2 separate regions of the Homo sapiens genome follow, and region 1 is linked to region 2. A link means that fine-mapping ties the variant in region 2 to the expression of a gene that starts in the linked region. Tissue or cell type: whole blood. Region 2 holds a variant in brackets; the other region holds the start of a gene. All regions are shown on one strand. Distances are between the middles of the regions.

Region 1 (2,765 bases), 40 kb before region 2:
CAGTCATTCCTGCCATGTAGAACACTTCCCCAGGCCCAACACCCCACAACACCTGGGGCCTTACCTCTACCTGGGGACTGACCACATTATAATTAAGAAGGCTTAACTCACGATGAAGGGGACTGCTCTAGTGGACGAGTTGGGCCGATCCCTTTATTGACTCCGTTAGGATGGGAGATGGGGGTTGGAGGGATAGGCGTTAGGGGTATAAAGGGGCCAGCTTGGGAATCAAACCCTACTTCCAGAGTCCCTTCGGGCTTTGAACATGCCAGAAACATTTTCCCTGCTTAGAGCACTGTGCTGAATTTTGTTAAACTTGTGATTAAATCGTCATGAAAGCTTACACGTGCATTTAAAAATTATTCAGATATGCACCATTAGGGATAATCAGGCTAATAGTACCAGACCTTGAGTTCATTGAGGACTGGATTAGTCCCTTAAGTATCGTGGTAAATGTTAATTGAACAAATTCCAAGTTTATAGCCACCCACTTTCTGTCATATCAGCATTTCAGTTATTGAAAAATTAAGTTCTAGCTTTTCTTTTAAGGAACTTTAAAAATCACAAGTTCGAATTTTAAAAAGGAATCCTAAGACATTTTTCCTCGTCTGCTGACATATTTCCACAGCAAATGCTAAACTAATAGCTAGGCTATTATTAGGTGATTTTGCCATCTTAAAATCTTTTGGTTTCTGAGTTCGAGGAAAGGCGTTGGGGGCAAATATGTAAGAGAGGCTGTGAGGGATGTAATACTGCAAACGCTAACGTTTTGTTTTCATAGTTGTTTGGCCACCTCGCGAGATCCAGTGAACCGGAGGAGTTCCTGTTTTTCCCTTTTAATTTTTGTCAATCTAATCTTCAAAGTCAACAAAGCTAAAATCGAGCACCCAGGTGGTTCACCTCCCCAGAGGGGCTCAGATCATGAAATAAACGCCACCAAAAAAACGCTGGAAGAGGCAGCCCACAGTGAAAAGTCCCAGGAAGTGATTTCCGGTCGAAGGTGGGAGGGGCGGCTGATTTCCGGTCGAAGGGCAGGCGACGGCTCTTGCGCAAGCGCGCTTCGCACTTTGCGGGCTTTTTTTTTTTTTTTTTTTTTTTTTTTTTTTTCCTTTCCCCTCCCCCTCCCTCTCCAAGCCGGAGGGGTCCTGAGGTGACAGCGCCTGCAACTGAAATTTCAGCAGCGGGAGAAGATGGACAAGAGAAAGCTCGGGCGACGGCCATCTTCATCCGGTGAGAAAGGGTCAGAGAAGGGCTGAACATATTGTCTCCTACCCGGGGGAAACGGGAGGCGCAGGCGGCAGCTGGGGTTGCGGCCCGAAGCCGCGGGGGCGAGGGCGGGGGCGGGGAGAGGAAGGGGCGCGCACAATGGAAGGCTCCCGGGTCGCCCCCGCCCCTGGAGTCGAAGACCCGGTCCGAGCTGTCATCGAAGCCTCGGGCGCTCTTCACCTCAAAACCCCTTTTATTTTTTCCCTCCTCCCGCGAACACCCTCCTTGCGTCTCATCGGCCCATGGATCTTCCCGGTTGGCTTGTCACTCTCTGCCACGCCTTCCTCGTAATTCCACCAATGTTCCAATTTCATTTCGGCTTCTCAGCGCCTGACCCCACTTTCCTCTCTTCCTTTGATTCTCGACTTTGCGTCCCTTCCCCTCTCCCTCCTCTTTCCCTCAGCAGGTAGCTGCTGCTGGGGAGGAAAGGTGGGGCTTGCGACCGGAGACTCCTTTTCTTTGATACAATGCCTCTCCGGGTCTCGTTCTGCTGAACAGGCCCGCCTAATAGCCTTTTTCTTTTCCAGCCTACCCTGCGTCTTCCAAAAGTGATTGGAAAGTCAAACAAAGGATTTGAAGCCGTGCTTTCGTTGTGTTTTTATTTTCAGCATATTTTTTGTTTTGGACGTTACTTTGTTTTAAATGACTATCTTCAGTTTTGTGTACAACGTCTTGGAAACAAGAAAGTGGAGTTATAAAAACGTGAGGTAGAGCTCCTCCCAGTTGAGAAGTTTTTATCAAACATTTCATCCATTAGGGGGTCCTCAAGTCCTTGTGTTAAGTCCTATGGATGGTAGGAGGAGAGGACGAGGACTCATATGCTTACAGTCCAGTACACAAACGAACGCCCAATGAATCAATTATTTCATTTCATTTTTCTGTTTCTGATGGTACCGTTGGTTTCTGCAGAGACAGTTAACAATTACAGATTTATTGGCCGGGCGCGGTGGCTCACGCCTGTAATGCCAACACCTTGGGAGGCCGAGGCGGTCGGATCACAAAGTCAGGAGATCGAGACCATCCTGGCTAACATTGTGAAACCCCGTCTCTACTAAAAAATGCAAAAAATTAGCCGGGCGTGGTGGCGGGCGCCTGTAGTCCCAGCTACTCAGGAGGCTGAGGCAGGAGAATGGCGTGAACCCGGGAGGCGGAGCTTGCAGTGAGCCGAGATCGCACCACTGCACTCCAGCCTGGGCAACAGAGCGAGACTCTGTATCAAACAACAACAACAACAAAAAAAAAACAAAAAAAACCAATTCCAAATTTATTTAGGAGTGCCCTGTGGCAGTGCATCTCAAACTGCTTTCAGCCTTAATTGCAAAGGAGAGTGATTATGGATCTCTGGGGACACTGCTTGAAGCAGTTGAAAACCTGAAATCCCTTTTCATATGCAACCAATGTTATCGATGTTCTTGGTGTATATTCTGGAGATAATAGTTTTTTCCTTTGAAAGCACATGTATAAATGATATATATGTATATTTATACATACATGTAGGT
Region 2 (2,765 bases):
AACTGAAAACTCTGGAAGACAGCCTAGGCAGTACCATTCAGGAGATAGGCACGTGCAAAGATTTCATGATAAAGATACCAAAAGCAATTGGGACAAAAGCAAAAATTGACAAATGGGATCTAACTAAACTAAAGAGCTTCTGCACACCAAAAGAAACTGTCAACAGAGTAAACAGACAGTGTACAGAATGGGAGAAAATTTTTGCAAACTATGCATCTGACAGAAGTCGAATATACTGCATCTATAATTAACTTAAACAAATTTACAAGCAAAAAACAACCCCATTATAAAGTGGGCCAAGGGGGGCATGAACAAGTGCTTTTCCAAAGAAGACGTACATGCAGCCAACAATCATATGAAAGAAAGCTCAACATCACTAATCATTAGAGAAATGCAAATCAAAACCACAGTGAGATACCATCTCACACTAGTCAAAATTGCTACTATTAAAAACTCCAAAAGTAACAGATGGTGGTGAGGTTGTGGAGAAAAAGGAATGGTTATAAAGTGTTGGTGGGAGTGTAAATTAGTTCACCCATTGTGGAAGACAATGTGGCCATTCCTCAAAGATGTAAAGACAGAAGTACCATTCACTCCAGCAGTCCCATTACTGGGTATTTACCCAAAGGAATATACATTGTTCTATTATAAAGACACATGCACACATATGTTTATTGCAGCAGTATTTATAATAGCAAAGACATGGAATCAATCTAAATGCCCAGTAATGTTTTACTGGATAAAGAAAATGTGGCACATATACACCATAAAATGAGATCATGTCTGTTGCAGGGACTTGAATGGAGCTGGAGGCCATTATCCTTAGCAAACTAATGGAGGACAGAAAACCAAACACTGCATGTTCTCACTTATAAGTGGGAGCTAAGTTATGAGAATACATGGACACAGAAGGGGACAACACATGCTAGAGCCTTTCAGAAGGTGGAGGGTGTGAGGAGGGGAGAGCATCAGGTAAAATAGCTAATGAGTACTAGGCCTAATATCTGGGTCATAAATATTCTGTATAACAACCCCCCATGACATAAGTTTACCTATGTAACAAACCTACACAGGTACCTCTGAAATTAAAAGTTTTAAAAAAAGGACTTACTCATTTTGTTAATGATTTTCTGACTGCTTTTATATCTCTATTTCTCTATTCTTTTATTGTTTACCTTTATGATTTGGTGGTTTTTAAAAAATTATTTTTTATTATACTTTAAGCTCTAGGGTACATGTGCATAATGTGCAGGTTTGATACATAGGTATACATGTGCCATGTTGGTTTGCTGCACCCATCAACTCATCATTTACATTAGGTATTTCTCCTAATGCTATCCCTCCCCCAGCTCCCCACCCCGCGACAGGTCCCAGTGTGTGATGTTCCCCGCCCTGTGTCCAAGTGATCTCATTGTTCAGTTCCCACCTACGAGTGAGAACATGCGGTGTTTGGTTTTCTGTCCTTGTGATAGTTTGCTGAGAATGATGGTTTCCAGCTTCATCCATGTCCCTGCAAAGAACATGAACTCATTTTTTTT[A/TA]AGGCTGCATAGTATTCCATGGTGTATATGTGCCACATTTTCTTAATCCAGTCTATCATTGATGGACATTTGGGTTGGTTCCAAGTCTTTGCTATTGTGGATAGTGCTGCAATAAACATATGTGTGCGTGTGTCTTTATAGTAGCATGATTTATAATCCTTTGGGTGTATACCCAGTAATGGGATTGCTCAGTCAAATGGTAATTCCAGGTCTAGATCCTTGAGGATTCGCCACACTGTCTTCTACAATGGTTGAACTAATTTACATTCCCACCAACAGTGTAAAAGCATTCCTATTTCTCCACATTCTCTCCAGCATCTGTTGTTTGCTGACTTTTTAATGATTGCCATTGTAACTGGCGTGAGATGGTATCTCATTGTGGTTTTGATTTGCATTTCTCTGATGACCAGTGATGATGAGTGTTTTTTCATGTGTCTGTTGGCTGCATAGATGTCTTCTTTTGAGAAGTGTCTGTTCATATCCTTTGCCCACTTTTTGATGAGGGGGTTGTTTGTTTTTTTCTTGTAAATTTGAGTTCTTTGTAGATTCTGGATATTAGCCCTGTGTCAGATGGGTAGATTGTAAAAATTTTCTCCCATTCTGTAGGTTGCCTGTTCACGCTGATGGTAGTTTCTTTTGCCATGCAGAGGCTCTTTAGTTTAATTAGATCGCATTTGTCTATTTTGGCTTTTGTTGCCATTGCTTTTGGTGTTTTAGTGATGAAGTTCTTGCCTATGCCTATATCCTGAATGGTATTCCCTAGGTTTTCTTCTAGGGTTTTTATGGTTTTAGGTCTAACATTGAAGTCTTTAATCCGTCTTGAATTAATTTTTGTATAAGGTGTCAGGAAGGGATCCAGTTTCAGTTTTCTACATATGGCTAGCCAGTTTTCCCAGCACCATTTATTAAATAGGGAATCCTTTCCCCATTTCTTGTTTTTGTCATGTTTGTCAAAGATCAGATGATTGTAAATGTGTGGTGTTATTTCTGAGGCCTCTGTTCTGTTCCATTGGTCTATATCTCTGTTTTGGTACCAGTACCATGCTGTTTTGGTTACTGTAGCCTTGTAGTATAGTTTGAAGTCAGGTAGTGTGATGCCTCCAGCTTTGTTCTTTTTGCTTAGGATTGTCTTGGCAATGTGGGCTCTTTTTTGGTTCCGTATGAACTTTAAAGTAGTTTTTTCCAATTCTGTGAAGAAAGTCATTGGTAGCTTGATGGGGATGGCAT

Evidence for each region. PIP is the estimated chance that this variant, and not a neighbour inherited with it, causes the effect.
Region 1: it holds the start of SENP7, and the variant in region 2 is fine-mapped to the expression of SENP7 in whole blood (TOPMed, PIP 0.93).

Annotation. Positions count from the first base shown.
Region 1 is chr3:101,511,556-101,514,320 of GRCh38, reverse strand. SENP7 (SUMO specific peptidase 7) reads left to right here and starts at 1,109. Exons shown (of 24, transcript NM_020654.5): 1 at 1,109-1,230. The coding sequence starts at 1,191.
Region 2 is chr3:101,471,097-101,473,861 of GRCh38, reverse strand. All of the region lies in intron 3 of SENP7 (SUMO specific peptidase 7), which reads left to right. Among named protein-coding and RNA genes, the nearest start is that of SENP7, 41 kb to the left of the region's middle. The variant A/TA (reference allele first, on the strand shown) is at 1,539.